Homo sapiens: one gene and its partners. The protein of the gene in region 7 interacts with the protein of the main gene of each other region in a biochemical or structural test. Each region holds a gene or a part of one and is shown on either strand. Other genes may lie near its edges.

Region 1 (3,500 bases), on a different chromosome or scaffold from region 7:
ATAGTAAGCCACTTTTCCTTAGAGGCTAAGCATTGTAATTTCTTTCTCTGACTAGGAGTAACATTTTCCTTGAATCTTGGCATACACGTATGGTCTCATAACTCTGAAGAAATTTCTGTAGAGAGAAGCTAGCAAGCCACAGAGGTGAGTCAGAGCCAGAAGAAGGAAGCCTTCCCTGTGGCTGGCTTTCTCCTACCTCAGCAGCATGAGGGTCATCAGAGGGGTGTTAGGACAGTTCAGTGCTATGGTCTGTCTTTGAAAAGAAGCCAGTTTTGTCTTGTTAGATACTGGGGTTGTGATCCTGGATGACAGGGATTCTGCGTCAGTTCTGGGCCAGGGGAATGAAGGTTTGACAGGCTGGTCATAGTACAGGGTTATTATGCAAAGGGGAATTGCTTTCTGAGGGCCCAAGATGGTGCGATGAACAGGGTAGCCTGGTGTCTTGGTCCAGCTGACGCTTGTGAATGAACTCTGTAGTGCTTGGGTAGAAGAGAAAGACTGAATATGATGGACTCTCCACCAATTTCTCAAATTGTTCAAATCATGGTGTGATGCCTCCCTTCATAGGCTCCCAAAGGAGGAATCCTTTCTATCTACCAGAGGTTGCCAGGACTAATTCTTTTGATGCCTGCTAAACTCACTGGGCCTTTTTTTTTTTTTTTTTTTTTTGAGATGGAGTCTCACTCTGTTGCCTAGGCTAGAGTGCAGTGGTGCAGTCTCACTGCAACCTTTCCCTCCTGGGTTCATGTGATTCTCCTGCCTCAGCCTCCTGAGTAGCTGAGATTACAGGTGACTGCCACCACACCTGGCTAATTTTTTTATTTTTAGTAGTGATGGGGTTTTACCATGTTAGCCTGGCTGGTCTCGAACTTCTGACCTCAGATGATCTGCCCACCTCTGCCTCCCAAAGTTCTGGGATTACAGGCGTGAGCCTCACTGGACCTTATATGGCTATCTCCATCTAAAATGTAAATACATCACTTAGCCTTACTCTCCTTTTTTAACTTTCATCTGTAAATTGCTCCAGGCTGCTTCTCCTCTGACTCAGCCTCTAACTTCTGTACCCCTCCCAAAACTTAATACTGGATTCTTAAGCCCCATTGTGTGGCTAACACCTCCTCCCACATCCTCAATCTCTTCTCTGAACTCTTCATCTACTTCCTGCCTCCTTAGGTCACTTAGACGTCCTCTGAAGTCTTCAAAATAGAGAAGGCTTTTCCTCCATCACCTTTTACAAACCAGGCTCTGCTCCTTTGAGGCTCCTGTCATTCTTTTTGTTCATTTGATACATATTTGAGGGCCTACTATGAGCCAGGCACTGTTCTAGGAACTTGAATAAATTAGCTGAAAACCCTGCCCTCACTGGATACATTTCAGCAAGTTTGTACTGTATTACACCATAAATGCCATGGAAGGAGGAAAAAGGAGAACTGGCCGCGAGGAAGAGGATTTGGCAGGCCTTGTTGAGTACTTGATATTTGAGCAGACTGGAAGGAGGTGAGGGAGTTAGTGGGTGAGTATCTGAAGAAGACTGTCCGGGGAGGGACTGCCTGAAGCAGAGGCCGGAAGGCACAGGGCTGGTGTGTCGGGGAGCAGCCTAGAGGCCAGTGTGGCCAGGTAGAGTGAGCATTGGAGAGTTAAAGGCTGGGGGCAGAGAAGGGAGGGGTCAGATTATATTGAATGTGGCCGGTCACCCTGAGGACTTTGGCCTTTATTGCTAGGGCCATGGGGTGGGAAGTTAACATGGGCAGGGGACATTTCAGGGTCTTGAGCAGGAGGGGGGCATAGTTTGATTATATATTGAAAAGGATCACATAGGCTGTTCAATTGAGACTACCTTGAGCATTCCCCTGAATTAGTTAGGATTCTTTATTAGTTAAAAAGACATGAGCTGAATGCAAACTAGATAGAGGAAAATAAAAATCTACTGGCTCACGTTGCTGAAAAGGCCCAGGTATTTTGGCTTCAGGGATGGCTGGAGCAAGGTATTCCAGTGATGTCGGGGATCTGTCACTTTCCATCTCTTGGCTCTGCTTTCTTCTGTGTCAGCCTTGTTCTCATGCCAGTGAAGGGATATGTTCTATAAACAAGCTTCCCAGCTCCAGCAGAAGGAGAGCACTCCTTTCCTGATAGTTCTGGCCAAAGCTCTGGGCTGGTGTCTCATTGGTCTAAATTGGGTCAGGCGCCTAAACCAGTCTCTGATTCTGATTGCGCAGACTTGAATCAGGTACTTATCTTTGGAATGAGGAAAGGAATTTTTTTAAAATTGGGGAATATATACATGAAGTTTATAACAATGTGTGTATATAAAGAGTAAAAGTTATCTGTACAGTTTAAAGACTAATAAAATGTTCCTACCCCCAGATTAAGATACAGAATATTACAAATATTTTGGAAGCCCCCTCTGTGCCTGGGAAGGGAGGAGGTGGTTGCCAGAGCAAAATCAAGAAATGTTAGACAAGCAGGAAACAAATATCCACTACAGACCTTCCAATACTGTTTTCTTTGTCATTTTCCAACTTCACACCTTCTCACTCTCATTCATTAAATCTTTAGACCCCAACTTACTGTCTTCTGAAATCATGTCCTCACCACGGGGCTTTAATCATTCACATGGCTGATCTGTCCAACTCTCCAAAATTACCAGTTTCTTGACCTCCTTATCTGTAATCATCCTTTTTTTTTTTTTTTTTTTTTTTTTTTGGGATGGAGTCTTGCCCTGTTGCCCAGGCTGTGGTGCAATGGCACGATCTCAGCTCACTGCGATCTCAGCTCACTGTAACCTCTGCCTCCAGGGTTCAAGCGATTTTCCTGCCTCAGCCTCCTGAGTAGCTGGGACTACAGGTGCCCACCACCACGCCCAGCTAATTTTTGTATTTTTAGTAGAGACGGGGTTTCACCATATTGGCCAGGCTGGTCTCGAACTCCTGACCTCAGGTGATCCGCCTGCCTCGGCCTCTGAAAGTGCTGGGATCACAGGCGTGAGCCACTGCGCTCGGCTCCTTCACCTTTTTAACAGTTCATCTGCTCTCTCCCACGGCCGCACCCTGCGTTGTAATACCTAGAAGCATTCCAGCTCTGAAATAGTGCCACTGGATATTATCACATTTTATTGTGTTTATTTAAGGTATACAACTTGATGTTATGGGATACACATAGATAGTAAAAGTTTACTATAGTGGAGCAAATGAACACAGTCATCATCTCATAGTTAACTCATTTTGTTTTTGTGGCAAGAGCATCTAAATTGACTCATTTAGCATGATTGTCAAGTACAGTACAATTTTATTATTAATAACTCTAGTCCTCATGTTCTACATTAGATCTCCAGACTTGTACACTCCTCCATATCTGCTATTTTGTATCCGTTTACCTACATCTTCCCATTTCCTCTCCCACCTGCCCTTGGTAGCCACTATTTTGTGTTCTTTCTCTATATATTTGAATTTTTTTAAAGATTCCATATGTAAGTGAGATCACTCAGTGTTTTTCTTTCTGTG
Region 2 (3,500 bases), on a different chromosome or scaffold from region 7:
TGGAGAATGACAGGGGCCCCAAGGCAGATGGCATCAACCTCATCAAAGACCAAAAAACAAATAAACGAACAAAAATCCCTCCGGTAGGCAGTGAAACACCACAAAAAAAGCAAGGGCTATAGATGATATACCAAGAGCTACAGATGGATGAGGTTGGACAAGTCACATAACCTCTGTGTCAGTTTCCTCATCTGTTTGTTGTGAGGAATAAATGAAATAATGCCTGTAAAATGCCTGTCAGGTAGAAGTCACTGAAAGGAACAGAAGTTCCATTCCATCCCCCTAAGGAAAGACAGGGAATGGCCAGAATCTTCCTAGCCAATTGAGTAGTGCTTTCAAGGAGAAATCAAGAGAAAACACTACTTCTTGGATATTTTGGCTAAGTAGTCATTTGAAGTACAGTTGACTGGTTATTTTATTTTAAATCATATCTCATAGACTCTTCCCAATCATAGGCTGGCTGTGTAGTTTTCTGAATTTTGCTCTGGTATTCTTCTTCTTTTTTTTTTTTATTTTTATTTTTTATTTTTTTTTTGAGACTCCAGGCTGGAGTGCAGTGTCACGATCTTGGCTCACTGCAACCTCCGCCTCCCGAGTTCAAGCGATTCTCCTGCCTCAGCCTCCTGAGTTGCTGGGACTACAGGCGCCTGTCACCACGCCCGGCTAATTTTTTGTATTTTAATAGAGACGGGATTTCACCATGTTGGCCAGGCTGGTCTCTAACTCCTGACCTCAAGTGATCCGCCAGCCTCAGCCTCCCAAAGTGCTGGGATTACGGGCATGAGCCACTGCGCCTGGACTTATTATTCTTAATAGTATTTTATCTTATGAGCGAAGATAAGAGCCCAAGATGGTTTAGTTTACTGATTCTGCAAGTGCTATTTCTATTAATTCCTTGGCATACTGCAGTTTGTATGATGGCTGCACTCTTGTTAATAAGCTTCGTCTTTCTGAATTCTGTTGCTCCATAGGGAGCTGGGAGGCTGCAAAAGGTGGCCCTGTAAAAATCTTTGCATTTATAATTTAATAAAGGGGACATTGTAACACTGGAACTCCATATTTTAAATGAAGAGCTCTGTGTCTATTTTTTCTCCTCCCCCATTTCTTTCTTTCTATAAACAACAGTGGTGTGTGTGTGTGTGTGTGTGTGTGTGTGTGTGTGTCTGTATGTTTGAGACATTCAAGTCACTTCCATTTCCACCCTTCACCCTGAGTGGAGCTCAGGGTTAGCCATCATTGTGCATATTTTGTGGTCAAACCGACTCTGTAGGCTACTGAAATTGTTTTAAAAAAATTGGGGCCTTTACTGGCCAGGCACGGTGGCTCATACCTGTAATTCCAGCACTTTGGGAGGCCAAGGTAGGCAGGTCACCTGAGGTCAGGAGTTCAAGACCAGCCTGGCCAACATGGGGAAACCCCACCTCTACTAAAAATACAAAAATTAGCCAGGTGTGGTGGCACACGCCTGTAATCCCGGCTACTTGGGAGGCCGAGGCAGGAGAATTGCTTGAACCCAGGAGATGGAGGTTGCAGTGAGCCAAGATCGTGCCACTGCACTCCAGCCTGGGCAACAAAGCAAGATTCCGTCTCAAAAAAAAAAAAAAAAAATGGGGCCTTTCACAATAAGTACCCACAGAAGCTTTACCCTCTAACTACTTTTTAACTCAGAGCTGTGTGTTACACACCAACCTTCTGGAGGACTCAAAAATGGATCCCTTTCCTTTCACATTATTGAGTGATGGACCAGTGGCACCTAAGGAAGAGCTACCACATTTTCAGGCTGTGTGAGTCTGGACTGGATCATAAGAAACAGGAGAAAAGCAGTCAAAGAAGGTGGTACCAAATCATGGCAATTCTGGTAGACCTCTAGCTCAATGATCTAGAGGTGGAGGCCATTTCACCTTTTGCTCAGAGGGGCGATGGCTAGTGAGAGACTTGCTTACTTCCTCATAGTCAGAGCAGCACTAAACCCTGCCCAAACACAGATACTTGAGAGAGAGGAAGACTTCCTCTTGTACAAACTGGATTTGTTCTAAAACAGAGAAAGAGTAGAGGCAGCTTCCAGAAGGACCTGTCTTATAGGAAGTAAGAGCAGGGGACAAGAATGAAACAGATGGTGGGTCTAAGCAGGGAATGTATCCACCAAGAGCCTGCAACAAAACTAAAGATAAAATGTTGCCTGCGATTTATTCGGCTAAGAGAAGTACACCAGACATGGTTTGTTGGGATGCTTCTGACCCCATTTACTGGTCACAGTACTCAATTTATTTAGGGTTTTATTTTTTATCCTGTAATTTGAGTCTTTGATTGTGAAGAGGTACTTAATTATAATTTGCCACAAGAATAATTGTGGTATGATTACAGGGCTCTCAATGAGTTGGTAGTTCCTGAGAATAGAGTAGTATTATTTGGTTACCACTACTCCTGAGTAAATGCATAATTGTAATGTTAAAATGAACCTCTTTGAGTTTAGAGCTAAAACTGAGTGTTGGGAAGGGCTGATTGTAAACTCATCAATTTGTCACTCCAGTGAGAGACCATTTAAACCAGGGAGTCAGGGTGTGTGGCAGGGTGGAGGGAAAGGTTTGCACTCTTGCCCAATTTTTCTCAAAATCTAATTTACAAAATATTGAATTAATCCACCTCCAGAAGATAGTGGCATACACATGGTAGATAAGTGGCAAAGCGATCTTCCAGAACACCCCTGGTGTTCCTTTGACGTATTTTCGTCTCCCCAGCATGAGAATAGAACCTCCTACACCACAGGAAAGAGCAAAATAACAGTGTGGATAGCCCCCAGGCTTTGATAAAATTCACTCCCTTGCTTTCCTAGTGTGAGCAATAATCTGCTTAAAAAGTAGAAAAAAACTGCTGGCTTTATTCATTCTGCTTCCACGGTGCCACCAAAAGCATAAGGAGTTTACTTAAAAAATAGACACATTCCCACCCCCACCCCCCCACCAGAGGAAAAATCCCTACCACTAATTAAACTTGAATGGAGGGCTGGTGGTTTTTTCGTTACTTACTTAGTGTTTTTTTGTTGTTGTTTTTGATTTTGTTTTTTGAGACGGAGTTTCGCTCTTGTTGCCCCGACTGGAGTATAATGGCACAATCTCGGCTCACTGCAACCTCCGCCTCCTGGGTTCAAGCGATTCTCCTGCCTCAGCCTCCCGAGTAGCTGGGATTACAGGCATCCACCACTACGCCCGGCTATTTTTGTATTTTTAGTAGAGACGGGGTTTTGCCATGTTGGCCAGGTTGGTCTTGAACTGTTGACCTCAGGTGATCCGCCAGCCTCGGCCTCCCAAAGTGCTGGGATTACAGATGTGAGCCACCGCGCCGGCCTAGTGTTCTATTTTTATGACAGCATTTGTTTTCACTTTATCTTTCCAATGAAAGTTCGGAATTAGTAATAATATTACACTGTGCATAAACTGTAAGTGAATAACTGATATGAAGTGTTGCTTGGTGTGAATAAAAAAGCCAGTGGTGACTTTGGG
Region 3 (3,500 bases), on a different chromosome or scaffold from region 7:
ATGCAATAACCAAGTAATTCTAAGACAGATATTCTCAATGATGTCTTTAACTCCCAGCTTCCATTTGGTAGCTCCTTATCTCAATTTGACAGCTGGTTTACTGGAAAAAACACTATTACCAAAAACACTATTACCCATATATCTGAAAGGGTACCTTATTCTGATAACATACATGTACTTTACAAGGGAAGAAACATAAATATTTGAATTGAGTTCATCAGTTAAACATATAGGGCTGGCAGAAAAACTATGTAAAATACACTTCAAGACACTTTAGAAAAAAATGATCAAAATAGTATATTTGTTCAATACTAAAAGTCTGAAAGATAAAGAATAAACAATATAATGACAGGCATTAATTTGTGTTAATTATCTTCAGTACTCCTACAACACTAACATATATTATCAGTTATGTGGGGCATTAAATATATTTAAAAATACTTTCCAAAAGATGAATAACTCGCTTAGCTTTAAAGTACGGTATAAGAAAGAGCTTAATCAGAAAGAAAGCAAACAAAAATAAACAAACTTACAATGATGGGAATTTTCTCTTTGGGTTTTGCTAGTTGTTTGGCCAACAAATACTGTTCCGTGCCAGGTTTCGCAAATCCAGGAAATCTAATCATGAATATAAATGTTCATCAGTCTTAAGACTTTCCTTGTAAGAATTTTACAACTCTCGTCTACATTTACTTACCAGTTTTAACCTTGTCCTGTCTTTCGGGTGCACTAGAACTGGAAACTGTGGTAAATGAAACCTAATGTAATCAGATTGTTCAATGGCCAATTAGGCATTTAATTAAGCTTGATCTGGTAAACAGAACAGTTTGACTCCAGAAGGTGTGATGTTTACGGGCACTCTATTTGCTTGACTGTGTCTGAAACATTCGGTCACCCCAGAGTGAAGGGCAGACCTGAAAAAACGCCCCCCTAGTTCCCTGGGGCAGTGAGTAGTGAGCACGCCAATCTGAGTTGGCCACAGGGGGCAATAGCCACATGCTGGCATTTCTACATCCAAATTAAAGTTGCCTTTCAACAGGCTCTCTCCAGAGGCCACAACTGTCCCAAAGGGGCTGTCCTGCTCATCAGCATATGTGCTTGTTTCTTTTGGAATTGCCTTCAGAAGCAGTTCATGACAGCGGAAAACAAGTCTCTTTAGTAGAGACCCAAAGTGTAATCAATAAATTTGGCTATGGGGAGGGGGTGGGGGGGAGGTCACTTAAGACTCAAAAACTTAAATAAACTTGACTACTTCCAGAAATCACATCTATATCCAAAGGACATTTCTGAAATTAGAGGACAGCTAGAACATAGCCATCCAAAGGGCTACTGAAAAAGACAAGATTAATTTGGGTTTTAGAATTTTTCTTTTAGTAAACAGAAGAAAAGGAAGCAAAATATCTACAATGGGAAAAGGAATCTTATTTCTACGAAGTTCCAGTCGCATTGCTTCTACTTTCATTCATGTGCCAAGCCAAAGGCCAGTGTGATGCTCTCAGGGGCCCGTGTCTTCTTTTCCTGCATTCTCAGCTGACTTCCCTTGAGTCTCCTTTCTCTAGACATTCCTTTAAAACGCAGCTTACACAAGAGACCAGATGTGTCCTGCAGCTGGATGGCATGGGGTTTGAATTCTGACTCCAACACTTAGGTAGCCTTAGGGGCTGAAATCTCCTTGTGGAAGAATGAGACCAGAATGACCTACCTTCTAAGGTGATAAGGGAATTAAAGATTTATGTAAAGAACCTAGTATGTACTCAGTACATTTCAGTCATTGGCAACTAAGTCATCCTCTCTTTGGAAGTACTCCCTGCAGCCGCAGGTAGAGTCTTCCTAGGCATTTTGAGCATATTTTGTGATTCTATTCATCACACCTGACTGCCGCTATCCATTTACCTATTACAGCAGCCAGAGGGACTTAGAGGAAGCATTTGTGTTTTCAGGACCTGGAGGAGTTTTGGGAGCATACTGAATGCTTAATGAATTAGGCTAACCTGCAACACTTTTATTTATTAATTACTCTATTTTATTTATTTTTTTGAGACAGAGTCTCACTCTGTCGCCAGGCTGGAGTACAGTGGCGCGATCTCGGCTCACTGTAACCTCCACCTCCTGGTTCAAGCGATTATCCTGCCTCAGTCTCCCAAGTAGCTGGGACTACAGGTGCGCTTCTGTGGGGATTATATATCATGACAACTCCTTGACCAGCTTGTAAGCATTTCAATTTTTGGGCACTGTTATGGACCACAGAAAAATTTGAGGACAGCAATGTATTAATTATTTCAGCATCATCAAGATGCCTTTTATTTTTTTTTTGGAGACAGAGTCTCTGTGTCGCCCAAGCTGGAGTGCAGTGGTGCCATCTCGGCTCACTGCAACCTCCGTCTCCCGGGTTCAAGCGATTCTCCTGCCTGAGCCTTCCAAGTAGCTAGGATTACAGGCGTGCCACCACGCCCAGCTACTTTTTTATATTTTTGGTACAGATTGAGGTTTCACCATGTTGGCCAGGCTGGTCTCGAATTCCTGACCTCGTGATCTGCCTGCCTCGGCCTCCCAAAGTGCTAGGATTACAGACATGAGGCACTGCACCTGGCCCAAGGTGAATTCTTATAGTGCTCAAGTATATTTAATTTCAGATCTCTTTTTCTAGTATAAGATTTATGTTCCATGACTAGAATACAGCTGTCATATAAAATGGATTAATTGCTGAAAAAGTGTTAATACTTAAAAACATTTTTTATAATTGTTTTAAGTTTAAGTGACTCATTTATACAGTTTAGTTAAATACAAATACACAGGGTGTTAAATCGTTCACAGCACTACAGAGAGACAGAGATGCCTCAGAGGCACAGGTTCAAGTTAGGACTGCTTTAATGTGGTTTCAGCCTGGAATGATATTTTAGAGCAGAAAGAATTCTTAAAGCCAACCTCCTTGCTTTCGAGATGAAGAAACTGAGGTTCCAACAGGTCACGAAACTTGCCTTAAGGTTATAAGCAAATCAGAGAGCAAGTGTGGAGCAGAGGAGAGCACCAAAAACCAGAGTCAGAGACCCCCAGGCATGAGCTGGAACCTCACTCATCAGCCATGAAAACGTGGCCACTCATTTTTCTCAGTCTCTGCTTCCTTCGTTTTCAAAATGGGGCTAATTTATATGAATTTTCAATATACTTTATATTCACATTTAAAGAACAGCTGACAATGATGCACATCACTACTGACCATGACTGAAAACTTCAAATTTGACTCTGAAACAAGACACAGTTGACTAACAAGACAGAGAATTATTCACTTTATTATGCATGCAATTGAGCAGGAAAATATATAATGGAAGAAACTGGGTAAGAGGCAGCAAAAGTGTGCAGTCAAAAGAGAACTCATTTAATCACTGAAGCTATTTAAATATACTTTGGAGAACTTGTAGGACTTATTAAACTAGATCTAGACCTAGATCTTGATGTCTAAATATATGTCAAATGTTATGTTTTTAATTTTTCCAGACACA
Region 4 (3,500 bases), on a different chromosome or scaffold from region 7:
ACATGGATCCCCTACCTGTGACAGTGAATTTAATATTTATTATCTCTAACATGAAAATTAACTTGGAATCTGGGGACTGTCATTTTGTGCTAACAAATCCTTTTCTAATACTCAAATATGCCTAGGGATAAAGTTTAAGTAGCAAATACAGGTATTTAAATTAATACATACTTACCAAAACGAGCAGAAATTAATGGAGAAAACATAGGGGGTTGCTTCATAATAGGAGGGAGAACCACAGGCAACTGTTGGCCTTGAAGCTTCAGTTTGATGAGTTTCATAGCTATGGAGAACTCTTGCTGATCCATCTTCCCATCCTTGTTTAGGTCTGATAAAGCCCTAAAAGGAGCATGAGGTAGGTAGATTGCTATGTGGTGTGGTGGTGGGAAAACTAACGTTATTTTGGGGATTGACAAAGTAAAAATGATGATATGGCATTCACGTGTACATCATCACTAAATTTAAAATATCTAACATGTAAAATATATAATAACAAAAAGATAAAACCTACACTTTAAGAAATACTGACCAGAGATAATAACTAATAAAACACTGCCTGTCAAAACAGAATCTAGAGACCTTTGGGCTGAATTCCACCAGTTTAGGTAGAAAAAAATTCAAGATTATAATACTTCTAAATTTAATTTATTCATCTGTCCAAATATTTACTGAATACTTGCTATGTGCCTCGTACTCTACCAGGCATGAGAATATTCCAAGTGGAAAGATGGGACAGGGGTTGTTACTTATTGTAAACGTTTTTAAAAAAACAGATATTATAGAGAATAGTTTCTTTAAAGAAGGAGCAGGGGAAGCGAGGACTAATTTGGGGTTTATAGATTATGAAATAAATGAAACTACAAAATAACAGAAAGAGGATTTTGAGATTCTGCCAAATTATAAGGAAATTTTTCTCAATGATAATGTATATATCTTTCCTTAGAAAATTCTAATGAAATTAGAAATTTGTCCTAGAGAACTAAACCTGAATTATTTTCAATAATTTGCTCAATAAAATTTATTTTCCAAAAAACTGAAGAAATACCTTTTTTTTTTTTTTTTTTCTAAAGAGAGTCTCATTCTGTCATCCAGGCTAGGGTGCAGTGACACAATCATAGTTCACTGCAGCACTGAATTCCTGGGCTCAAGCAATCCTTCCATCTTGGCCTCCCTGAGTAGCTGGGACTAGAGGTGTGGCCACCACACCCAGCTAATTTTTTTTTTAATTTTCTGTAGAGACAGGGTTCTCACTATGTTGCCCAGCCTGGCCTCAAGCAATCCTCCTACCTCAGACTCCCAAAGTGCTGGCAGAAATATTCTTAATAACCAATAGAATGCAACTAAAAACAATTTTATGTTAACACTATATTACAAAAAAACAAAATACTATCAGAAAATTAGGTTCATCTACAAAACACTTTACCATATTTCAGCTAAAACAGGGGCCGGCAGACCTGATTGTAGGAAAAAATTACGTGCTTGATCACCTGGAGGTAATAAAAACAAAACCCAAGCAGCACATTAGTAAATGAAATTATTCCAATGCTTCTGAATAATAATGGGTATATGTTAATGATTTATTATAATTTTAATACCAATCATTAAAGAATAAGTGAAATAGAAACACATAAAAATTATTTACATAACTTTAATAAGACAGATATTTTAAAACAAAAGTCACATCTGCACTTCTATTGTATATTAATCAGTGATGAAAGATGATTCATCTCAGTTTTTCCACAATTGGGGTCTTCCTTAAAAATACTTCCACTTAGTAAAATTTATATTTAAAAACACTATTCCCTAAAAGAGTTTCAATATAAAAAGTACCAGGTGTTAGGAGAGAGAGTCCTCCATGAGTTTCTTCACACTCCTATGTGTCTTGCTCTGTATACCAATAATGTAAGACCCTAATTGCTCTCTGCCTGGGTCACTTCTCAGAATTGGGTTTGTAATGAGCAATCTTAACGAATCCGGTAACGTTTCCCACTGAGACAAGGGACAAACTTGCTTTACTGCTTGCTACAAAAGGGTGGGTTCCCCAAATTCAGTGTTCCTCTCCTGTAACACAATCATAGCATGTGTACTATTCTCCTGGGCTCTCTGCATTGTCTCTGTGGGACTTAGGGAACACTAAAGGAAACAGAAAGATAGATGCCAATGCTCATTTTGCTAGTTATGCTGTTAGTCATAAGGTTCTTTGTCTCTGACTCAGGAATCTTGGGTCTTCCACCCGTAATGGACAAAGTTATTAACCTGTAAGCAGGGTAATCAAATCCTGATACCAGGTAAGGTAATTACTATCATAGCAGTACAAATAACATGGTTAAGTAGATGGATTCCAAAATCAGCCCAAATGGTTTCAAAGCCCAGATTAACACTAACCATCTTTGTAACCTTAGGCAGTTACATAACGTCTCTTAGTCTCAGTTTCACTATTTGTAAATATAGACAACAACAGTGCCTACTTTACAGGGTTGTTGTAAAGGTTAAATAAAATAATGCACTTAGCATAGCATCTGGTATATAGTAAAAATTCAATAAATATCATTGTTCTCATAGTTACTATTATTGTATGTAAAGCACTAAGCTACTTTGGCACAGAAAAAAGTTTAATTAATAGAAAAAAATTTCAAAGGCACACCTAAATTAATCCCATTTTGGCTCTGGTGGTCTTTCTGCAAAACAAGGGCTAGCATCAACAATCAGTGCTTGGTGTAGCCTCAAAGACAGAGGGCTAGCATTAGGAAAACAGATTCCAGAAAAAAAAAGTCTAGATTTTCCATGAAATGAATCTAAGAAATAAACTGAAAACTTTCTAGATATAATGTTAAAATGTGAAACCAGACAATTACACAGAAATTCTTGACTATCATTTAGGATTCAGGAAAAATCTTCCATATCCCAAATTTAAAACAACAAATTAAGACAGTTCCAGGAAAAATAAAGTTAGCATTTCTTTAATTTCTAGAATTCTGATTGATATGAATTTTATCGTTTATTAACACAAATTTGATGGCAGTCAAATTAAAACTAATTCTTAGATATCACATAAGGACCATAATTCACTAATAAAACTAATTATAAATACAAACCTGTTATGTAACCTCCTGAAGGTTTGAGGTTATCAAACTGCCTGTCATGCTTAGTACGTTCTTCAGAGGTAATAGCCCACATGTTTGGCCCTCCTGAAACATAAGTGGAAGAAACTATAGTGTATACATGAGAATGCTTAAAATACAATTCTAAAATGTAAATAGAAATCACAAGTGTTCATTGTATGACAGTATTTAATATTTGAGTGACACAAAGAGTAGAGCTCTATCATAACCATACATAGCACAGCCCTAAGGCTTTTCACTCATTGGCTCAATTAACGTCTATTGAACAAGTGCTATATCACACTCACTGGAAATGGGCATCAAGCTAAATACTGGCAATAAAAAGATGAAGAAAATATTCCCACCCTCAAGGAATTCATGCTCTAGAAAACAACAGTA
Region 5 (3,500 bases), on a different chromosome or scaffold from region 7:
AAATAAGCAAAAATAATTTCCATTTCATACTGGACACTTAAATACAGGCTTTGTCTCTTTCTTGTGCAATCAGTCCCAACAACTTGACACTTTTGACTTGAGGTAATTGAGATGCTTACCTGGATAAAAAACAACATCCCAACAGCTATGGTTGTTCCTAAAGCTAATCCCAAGGCAAACAAGGTGGTAGCAAATGCAGCTAATCCAAATGGAACAATTGGAAGAGGATCTCTCCGGGCTGCACTCATGTCGATCTTCACTGTGTTCCACCCAAAGGAGAGCTATCGCAGCAACAATAGCACACGCACAAAATGTTTGGTTATGGTAACTGGTCAGACTCTACTGTGACACGTAAAACAACTTGATCAAAGAGATAACAACGTGGCCCTGTGGCCAACGCAAACACAGCTATTTTTATTTTATTTTATTTATTTATTATTTATTTATTTGAGACGGAGTCTCACTCTGTCGCCCAGGCTGGAGTGCAGTGGCACGATCTCGACTCACTGCAACCTCCACCTCCCAGGTTCAAGCAATTCTCCTGCCTCAGCCTCCCGAGTAGCTGGGACTACAGGCATGTGCCATCACACCCGGCTTATTTTTTATATTTTTAGTAGAGACAGGTGTCACCAGATTGGCCAGGCTGGTCTTGAACTCCTGACCTTGTGACCCACACCGCCTCAGCCTCCCAAAGTGCTAGGATTACAGGCGTGAGCCACTGAGCTGGGCCAGCTATTTTTAATTAATATAGTAATGAGCTCGGACCGATGTGCAGGATATCATTCTTAGTTTTCTCAAATGTTACTTTTTGTTGTTGTTGTTTCCTCAGAAAGTGTCAAGGAGACCTTACCAACATTAACATACATAAACAACACTAGACACTAATCTAAACCAGAACTATGTCTTTTCTCTTCTCTTGCTATTCTACATCGCAGTATTCTTCCACAGTGACAAGTGCTGCCTAGGATTCAGTTGTTTCTTCCCTCATGTTTTACAAATGGTGATGAAGAACTGATAAAATGCAGGCCAAATATGGCCACAGATGTGTGCTGCCTGGCCTGCATAATGTTTCAACATTCAGAATTAGGTGCCAACATTTAAAAATCAAGAGATTTCACATAAAAATCCAGATTTTCAGATTTTTCTGGGCTAGAATTTCCAAACACCACAAGCTAGCAGATCAAATATGGGCTGTCCCCTCCCCAAAGGACAGACTCTCCAGTTTGGCAGTCCCATCAGGTGTGTCTCTCGTTTACTTTCAAGGCCTGTTTAGGGAGGTTTGTGTCCCTTGAACTTTATCTCATGACTACTTGCCCATAAATCAACTTGATCTCTTGCTGGTTTAATCTGTTTATATTTTATGGTATGCATCTGCTCCATGAGCCACCTTCCAGGGCACTAGAATCAGAAATGAACAAAGAACTACAACTTGCCACATGAATGGGATGAAAGTAGGAAGCACTAGTGTTGTCTTTTTTTCTTCTATTCTTTCCATAACTATTAAGTTTGAAGTCTAACAAATTACATATACAGTACTAAAATATTTATCACCTTCAACTACAGCATGTAAGTTTTCAGAACAAATACTCTTTCCTCATCTTAAAATTTAAGTTTTAATGCTTTCTAAAAAGGAACCCATATACCAGTAAAACAAAGTTCTATTTCCCCAACTAAATCACAGAAAGCATATTTCCAAAAGGAACCTCTTAAATGTTGATAACTACCATTTAATCTTGCATGGATGATTTTATAACAAAACATTTTCATTTTCACTTACCCGATGATAAAGCTGTGTGTACATAGTCATCACAAAAATGAAAGCAGCATGGATACAACCCAGTGGTGCTAAAAGGAGAAACAGTGTGAACGAAGCATGATTTTGGTAACCACAACAGTTGTTGATCCAAGGACAGTGATGGTCCATCTTCATCACACATCTAACAAGAAAAATTTACATAAAACATGAGGCAGAAAATCCTGTCTACTTTAAATAACTTTGGTCTTCAAAAGATCAAGCAAATAGGAATCCAGCATGTCCATGAGCTACGAGAGAATTATACTTCATGGAACAGAAAGAAAAATCTTTATGAGCTTTTAAACAATTAAGTGACTCCTTTTAAATTCTAAACAGCACAGGAAAGGGCAGGCTTTCTAACAGCTTCTGAGGAAAAGATGTCAGCTACAAGTATTTGTTTAAAGAAGTCAGGAGACCCACTGAAAGAGGGTCTCTTTATAATGCTCATTATAAAGAAATGAGCATGGTTCCTGGTTTTCTTCTAGTTTGTAAGTGCAGTGACCCAAGTGACCTACAATAGAGACTCAACAAATCCCTTATAGACCTCCAGTGGGGTTAATGGGCTCAAATAGACACATGTAACTTCCTTCCTGTTCTCATAGTATCCTTTAGTTAATGGATCTCTGAGCTAAGCAAGCTAACTCCAGAATATAAGATATGGTATAATAAACAAAGTCTTGCCGTGTACTGTTGATAGAAGACAATGTTTTGGCCTGAAACAAAACTTTATTTGCTTTCAACGGTTCTCTAAATTTCTTACTAATCAGTGATTATAGCTGTTCATTAAAAAAGGTCACAGGTTATTTCATATTTTTAATAGTCAGTTTTCTTCTAAGTTTTTGATATTAAAACATTTGTGATAATAGGCACCTGGATTATTAGATGTGTATAAAGTGTAAATGTTTGTCAATAAGTAATGGGAAAAGCAGATCTCCCTTATAATTTAGACTCAGAACAATTCTAAAGTTAGTCCAGATGGCAGCTGACTAACACAATTAATCTTGATATATGGAAACAAACTTAAGGTTTATACCTTTTTCCCTTGTTCTTGTAGGACAAGAGGCAAAGTAAATCTGTATTTTTCTGGAAAATCTTTTCACTTGTAACAAGGAAGAATTAAATCTATTTATTATCTAGATAATTTAAGTATAAAATGGCGATTATGGACACAAGTATTCTGACAATATTGTTTATAATATGGTAACCTTGCAGTGAATAGAAGTAGCACTAATGTAGTATAAGCAACAATGAAAACATCAGTAATTAGTTGATCAGTCCTCGCTGAACAGCAAGAAAGACAGGTACCTGTTACACTTTCTGCAGTGATGTGAACGTGGTGCCTTGTATGCTTGGCAGACTTTACAATACTGGAGATACATGGTATCCTGAGAAATTTCCTTGGCAGCAAAACAGAAACAAAAATGCATCATCGGATACTTGAATATAAGTATGATTCCTACGGTATGATTTTCTTTTATGGGCGATAGGGGAAGGAGAGAATCTTAACTTGCATTTCCAGTCCTCTTATTTGAGCTAAAATATTTTTAAATAAGTTTTCTGGTAAGAGCAGCATCACTTTCCCAATTACCCAGAAGTCCTTTTAAATTTTTCTTCCTTGTGCTCCACCTAAATTCAGTGTCACTAGTTGGTTCTACTTACCCCAAATCTTAGTGGATTCAGGAGTTCAGAAAAAGGTAGCTGACAA
Region 6 (2,500 bases), on a different chromosome or scaffold from region 7:
GTGGCGGCAGAGGGTCAGGAAGTGGAGGGTTGATGGGCGTGTGGGGGGCAGGGCTCAGCCTCCTGGTGCTGAGCCAGAGAGGGACCAGCAAGCGGGTGAGGGAGGCTGTCTCAGGTCCTAAGGCTGGCTCTGCCCCCCCAAGATGGTGCTCCCCACCATGACACTCTCCTCACCCCCCTTGTCTCCTCAGCTGCAGCAGAAGGCCGTGGCTAGTGAGATCTTCAAGGGCAAGAAGGATAATTACCCTCAGAGTGTACCCAGGCTCTTCATCAGCACTCGGCTTGGTGAGCCCCTGACTTTCCAGCACTCAGACCTTTCGTCACCATCCTGGTCCCCCATTGCCTCCACTGACTTCCCTCCCCGCCATCTGAGTTGCAGGTACAGATGAGATCAGCCCCCGAGTGCTGCAGGCCTTGGGCTCTGAGCCCATTCAGGTAAGAGCCTGCCTGCAGCCCTGAGTCCAGCAGCACGGTGCTACTGCCTGAGAGCTGAAGGCAGGTCAGGGCAGGGGCGGAGCCTTGGGAGCCTCTCCCCAGCCCCTTCAGCCTGGCCTCTGTCCCCAGTATGCGGTGCCTGTTGTGAAATACGACCGCAAGGGCTACAAGCCTCGCTCCCGGCAGCTGCTGCTCACGCCCAACGCCGTCGTCATCGTGGAGGACGCCAAAGTCAAGCAGAGGATTGATTACGCCAACCTGACCGGTCAGCCAGGGTCCAGGGCTGCAGGGGGAGGGCCCTGCTCTGACCCTCGACCTCTGACCTTTGCCCTCTCCCCTCAGGAATCTCTGTCAGCAGCCTGAGCGACAGTCTTTTTGTGCTTCATGTACAGCGTGCGGACAATAAGCAAAAGGTGCCTTTTCATGGATGGGGAGGAGTGGTGGGGGATGGGGGAGGTAGATGGGGAGGTGGGGTGGATGGGGGAATAGGGGGTGTGGGGGTGGATGGGGAGGTGGGAGGGTGGATGGGGGTAGATTGGGGGGTCAGGAGGTGGATGGGGAGGTGGGAGGGTGGATGGGGGTGGATTTGGGGGTCAGGAGGTGGATGGGGAGGTGGGGCGGGGGTTCCTCAAGTTCTGGGCAGGGCCTGACCCCTCCTCCTGCCTGGCCCCCCAGGGAGATGTGGTGCTGCAGAGTGACCACGTGATTGAGACGCTGACCAAGACAGCCCTCAGTGCCAACCGCGTGAACAGCATCAACATCAACCAGGGCAGGTGAGGCGCGGGCGGCCCCCGGGGACAGGGCGGGGGTGGCGAGGGGGCTGTGTGGGCACCCAGGGACAGGGTGGGGGTCCACCTTAGGGTTGGGGGTCTGCCTCCATGGAAAAACCCTCACCCACCCCGTTCCCCCAGCATCACGTTTGCAGGGGGCCCCGGCAGGGATGGCACCATTGACTTCACACCCGGCTCGGAGCTGCTCATCACCAAGGCCAAGAACGGGCACCTGGCTGTGGTGAGTGGGGCCTGCTTTCCCGCTTATGGCCTGGCTGTGATAGCCAAGCCTTCCTTGGCTGTGCTTGGCAGAGCCCAGGCACCTCACCATGGGCCTTCATCCAGAGGCCATCATACCACCTCTTCCATCCCTTGGCCCACCCATGAGGGCCAGAGAGAGCCCCTCAGTGCAGAAAGTTGTAAAGGTGGCAGCACGGTGGCTCATGCCTATAATCCCAGCACTTTGGGAGGCTGAGGCGGGTGGATCACCAGAGGCCAGGAGTTTGAAACCAGCCTGGCCAACATGGCAAAACCCATCTACTAAAAAAATGCAAAAGGCTGGGTGCAGTGGCTCACACCTTTAATCCCAGCACTTTGGGAGGCCGAGGTGTGTGGATCACCCGAGATCAGGAGTTCGAGACCAGCCTGGCCAACATCGTGAAACCCCATCTCTACTAATAACACAAAAATTAGCCGGGCGTGGTGGTGCACGCCTGTAATACCAGCTACTAGTGGGGGCTGAGGCGGGAGAATTGCTTGAACCCAGGAGGTGGAGATTGCAGTGAGCTGATATCATGCCACTGCACTCCAGGCCTGGGGAACAGAGTGAGATGTCATCTCAAAAAAAAAAAAAAAGGCCAGGCACAGTGGCTCACGCCTGTAATCCCAGCACTTTGGGAGGCGAAGGCAAGTGGATCACCTGAGGTTGGGAGTTCGAAACCAGCCTGACCAACTGGAGAAACCCCATCTCTACTAAAATACAAAATTAGCCGAGTGTGGTGGCGCATGCCTGTAATCCCAGCTACTTGGGAGGCTGAGGCAGGAGAATCGCTTAAACCCGGGAGGTGGAGGTTGCGGTGAGCCGAGATTGCGCCATTACACTCTACCCTGGGCAACAAGAGCAAAATTCCATCTCAGAATTTGTATACAAAAAAGTTAGCCTGGTGTGGTGGCGTATGCCTGTAGTCCCAGTTGCTCAGAAGCCTGAGATGAGAGGATTGCTTGAGCCCAGGAGGTTGAGGCTGCAATGAGACCCAAGATCTCACCACTGCACTCCAGCCTGGGTGACAAAATGAG
Region 7 (3,500 bases):
GTTACATTTAGTTTATCCAGCGTGTTATCAAAGGGTGCTATATAGTCTCTTCTGTTCTGAGGTCACTGCCTTAAAAATGTTGATGTATGTTAAGTGCTGGGCCAGGCACAGTGGCTCATGCCTGTAATGCCAGCACTTTGGGAGGCCGATGCAGGCAGATTGCTTGAGCCCAGGAGTTCAAGACCAGCCTGAGCAACATAGCGAAACCCCATCTCTACAAAAAATACAAAAATTAGCCTGGTGTTGTGGTGTGCACCTGTACCCAGCTACTCTGGAGGCTGGGGCAGGAGGATCACTTGAGTCCAGAAAGTTGAGGCTGTGATGAGCCATGATTGTGTCACTACACTTTGGCCTGGGCAACAGAGTGAGAGCCTGTCTCAAAATAAAGTAAAAAATAAAATAGTAAAGGTCTTAATGTATTATGGAAGAGCACCAGAATACATCAGAAAAGCCAAATTCAGGTCTAGGAACTGCCACTTTCTAGTTTCATAACCTTAAGCTAATCACTTTATTAATATGGCTTCAGTGTCCTTCAGTAAAATGGGAATGGTAATACTCTACCTTTGCAGGGTTGTTTAAAATCAAGTGAGGTAATTTATGTGGAAATGTTTTTATATAGTAGCATGTATATTTAGAAATCCTCTATTTTCTGTCAGTTCAATTTTGTGGGGAAGATTCTTGGACCACAAGGGAATACAATCAAAAGACTGCAGGAAGAGACTGGTGCAAAGATCTCTGTATTGGGAAAGGGCTCAATGAGAGACAAAGCCAAGGTAAGCTCACATTAGTGAGGCAAGAGGACATCCTAATGCCTTCTACTTGCCCAGAATGCAGTATGGATGTCTTATAGAGGCGGCAAGAATTTTGTATGTGTACAGAATGTGGCTCCTTTAAGTTTGCACTGGATGCAAGAGATTATACACCAAGTTAATTTACTTGGCTTGGCAACCCTGGAAGAGCCTAGGTGTGCCCTGGTGATAGTTTTCTTTTGGACTTTTTGACTGTGTAGTAATGGAAACAGCAGTAGCATGTTGCGCATTGGTAGGATTGTCTGTGAAAACTTGAAAGGGGAACTGAATATACTAAAATTTAGTCTAAAGCAGACAAAAGACGCTAAAATGCAAATAGCACACCCCCTTTTTTGTAACCTGGAAAAGTGAGAACAATAATGTGAGAGCAGATGAGTTTGAGGATTAGTTGGTTTGTTTTATAGCCGGTTTGGAATGTGAGGCTCACTAAAAGAATGTATTCCAAAAGGAACCATGAGTAATCCTGACTACAGAATCTAATGCGTCTTTTTTTTCCCCATGCCATAGCCGCGTACGCTGTGTACTCTGTGACAAGAAACTTCTCACCAAAACAGAATAGTCTTAGCCTTCTGGGGTCACCTTATTTGATGAGATATTCCTGCTACAGTCCAAAAACCAATTCTTTCAACCCTCCTTTTATGTAGTCTAATGGACACATGTTTGTTTTCTCAGGTCATTTCTTGCTAGATGCATATAGTTACGGCTGAAGTGTGTTCTAACTAATGAGATTTACATGAGCTTTTCTTCCCTCTGTCCTGACTTCTTTCTTCCCCTACCACTCCCTAGACCATATAAGCAGATAAGCAGAGCTCGTGGTGATTAACAGCTCTACCTGTGATTTAAAAACAAATGCTTGGCAAACAGCTATTATCTGAATAGACTAGAATTAAGTTTTTCTTCTTTATGCTTTTAGTAGGAGCTCCAATGGATATCTCAGGGATTTAAGACAACAATTAACTGTAAGCAGCAGACCATGTGCAAGTTTAGCAGGCTGTGCAAATTACTGTTCTTGAGAGTTTGTTTTACTTTTTTTTTTTTTCTTGAGAGGGAGCCTTGCTCTATTGCCCAGGCTGGAGTGCAGTGGCTCACTGCAACCTCCACCTCACGGGTTCAAGCAATTCTCCTGCCTCAGCCTCCTGAGTAGCTGGGATTACAGGCGTGCGCCACCATGCCCGGCTAATTTTTGTATTTTTAGTAGAGACGGGGCTTCATCACATTGGTCAGACTGGTCTCGAACTCCTGACCTTGTGATCCTCCCGCGTCAGTCTCCCAAAGTCCTGGGATTATAGGCGTGAGCCACCGCGCCTGGCTGCTTGTTTTACTTTCTTAAACTTTACTGTTTTTCTTTTTTCTTTTTTCTTTTTTTGTTTAATTCTTCTCAGCTCATACCAATTAACTTTACTGTTTTTCATGGACATTAGGGGTATTTCTTGCTGTTCCTTTGGCTTAGAGGTAAAGGTGGTGTTTTCTCCCTAGTCCATGGTGTGACATTTCTCTGCATTTTTCCATAGGAGGAAGAGCTGCGCAAAGGTGGAGACCCCAAATATGCCCACTTGAATATGGATCTGCATGTCTTCATTGAAGTCTTTGGACCCCCATGTGAGGCTTATGCTCTTATGGCCCATGCCATGGAGGAAGTCAAGAAATTTCTAGTACCGGTAAGGAAATCCATATCCTGTGTCTTCTGAGCAAAAGAGAACTGGGATCTTATACTGTTGTGAAGGTAGGGGTTCTTAACTAAGGTCTCTGCATAACCTGTATGTATACCAAATTCTGCACTTATGTTCATTTTCCTTAGGTAGTTCGTTACTTGCACCTAGTTCTCAAAGCATTATGCTCCAAGGCCACTCTATCCCTCCTTGTCTAATGTGGTTTTCATTGTGTACCGGTATCTTGTCAGTATCTCGGGTCCACAGTGTGCCTGCATTCTGATATTTGGTTAACTAAGGTTTAACAGGGTCTTCACCTAGCTGAGTATTTTGGTAGTAGTGTGGAACAAGGAGATTGTGTTAGGAAAGTGACTAAGGTGGGTCTCTGCACTCAAGAAGTTCATGCTGTAGAGAGTAGAGACTAGCAGCAAGAAGCTTATAGCATCTAGTGTTATTGGGTTAAATTCTGACCTGAGCACACTCAGGGATTTCTTTCCTGGAGGAGTTTGCTGAGGACGAGTTTAGTTTGGAAGAGGTTGACTATTGATGTTTAACAGATAGGTGAGCAGCTTTTTTCAGACTATTACTGAGGACTAGATAGAGATGGGACAGGCCAGTTTATCTATCTTGCTTGTTACCACCTTTGAATACTTGGTTGGAATATTACTTTGAATAAATAGGAAATGGTACTATTTTTGCCTTTTAGCAAGGCCTGGTGGTTGTCAGAGTTAACATACTACTGTTGAATATTTAATAACAAGGATGAATCTGGAGACTTATGAAGGATTTGGAATATTATTAAGTAGAATTGAGTAAGCGTCATGTGTTCATCAGAAAACTAGGAGGAGGTAAGATACAGTCCTTGGTTTTCTTGAATGTTAAATGAGGGAATTAGAACTAAATGTGGTGTCAGATGATGTGAAAATTGATAGGGCAAAAATTTATAGGCAGTGTGGGCCAGGCACGGTGGCTCACGCCTGTAATCCCAGCAATTTGGGAGGCCGAGGAGGGCAGATCACCTGAGGTCGGGAGTTCGAGACCA

Evidence for each region.
Region 1: the proteins of KHDRBS1 (region 7) and SNX30 interact in a test that uses a peptide from one of them, tested with the Homo sapiens proteins (one study listed by BioGRID).
Region 2: the proteins of KHDRBS1 (region 7) and BTK interact in a test that uses a peptide from one of them, tested with the Homo sapiens proteins (one study listed by BioGRID).
Region 3: the proteins of KHDRBS1 (region 7) and SNX9 interact in a test that uses a peptide from one of them, tested with the Homo sapiens proteins (one study listed by BioGRID).
Region 4: the proteins of KHDRBS1 (region 7) and ITSN2 interact in a test that uses a peptide from one of them, tested with the Homo sapiens proteins (one study listed by BioGRID).
Region 5: the proteins of KHDRBS1 (region 7) and ZDHHC6 interact in a test that uses a peptide from one of them, tested with the Homo sapiens proteins (one study listed by BioGRID).
Region 6: the proteins of KHDRBS1 (region 7) and MYO1C interact in a test that uses a peptide from one of them, tested with the Homo sapiens proteins (one study listed by BioGRID).

The regions. Positions count from the first base shown.
Region 1 is NC_000009.12:112,753,760-112,757,259, forward strand, and holds part of SNX30 (sorting nexin-30), read left to right. Parts: intron 1-3,500. UniProt on the Homo sapiens protein: Involved in the regulation of endocytosis and in several stages of intracellular trafficking. Together with SNX4, involved in autophagosome assembly.
Region 2 is NC_000023.11:101,376,192-101,379,691, reverse strand, and holds part of BTK (tyrosine-protein kinase BTK), read left to right. Parts: intron 1-1,668; exon of another isoform or gene 1,669-1,833; intron 1,834-3,500. UniProt on the Homo sapiens protein: Non-receptor tyrosine kinase indispensable for B lymphocyte development, differentiation and signaling. Binding of antigen to the B-cell antigen receptor (BCR) triggers signaling that ultimately leads to B-cell activation.
Region 3 is NC_000006.12:157,903,246-157,906,745, reverse strand, and holds part of SNX9 (sorting nexin-9), read right to left. Parts: intron 619-3,500; coding exon 534-618; intron 1-533. UniProt on the Homo sapiens protein: Involved in endocytosis and intracellular vesicle trafficking, both during interphase and at the end of mitosis. Required for efficient progress through mitosis and cytokinesis. Required for normal formation of the cleavage furrow at the end of mitosis.
Region 4 is NC_000002.12:24,312,037-24,315,536, forward strand, and holds part of ITSN2 (intersectin-2), read right to left. Parts: intron 3,189-3,500; coding exon 3,096-3,188; intron 1,488-3,095; coding exon 1,424-1,487; intron 340-1,423; coding exon 176-339; intron 1-175.
Region 5 is NC_000010.11:112,440,415-112,443,914, forward strand, and holds part of ZDHHC6 (palmitoyltransferase ZDHHC6), read right to left. Parts: intron 3,193-3,500; coding exon 3,101-3,192; intron 1,938-3,100; coding exon 1,778-1,937; intron 282-1,777; coding exon 120-281; intron 1-119. UniProt on the Homo sapiens protein: Endoplasmic reticulum palmitoyl acyltransferase that mediates palmitoylation of proteins such as AMFR, CALX, ITPR1 and TFRC.
Region 6 is NC_000017.11:1,466,187-1,468,686, reverse strand, and holds part of MYO1C (unconventional myosin-Ic), read left to right. Parts: intron 1-190; coding exon 191-284; intron 285-378; coding exon 379-434; intron 435-563; coding exon 564-699; intron 700-776; coding exon 777-847; intron 848-1,109; coding exon 1,110-1,207; intron 1,208-1,345; coding exon 1,346-1,445; intron 1,446-2,500.
Region 7 is NC_000001.11:32,030,868-32,034,367, forward strand, and holds part of KHDRBS1 (KH domain-containing, RNA-binding, signal transduction-associated protein 1), read left to right. Parts: intron 1-656; coding exon 657-773; intron 774-2,320; coding exon 2,321-2,467; intron 2,468-3,500. UniProt on the Homo sapiens protein: Recruited and tyrosine phosphorylated by several receptor systems, for example the T-cell, leptin and insulin receptors. Once phosphorylated, functions as an adapter protein in signal transduction cascades by binding to SH2 and SH3 domain-containing proteins.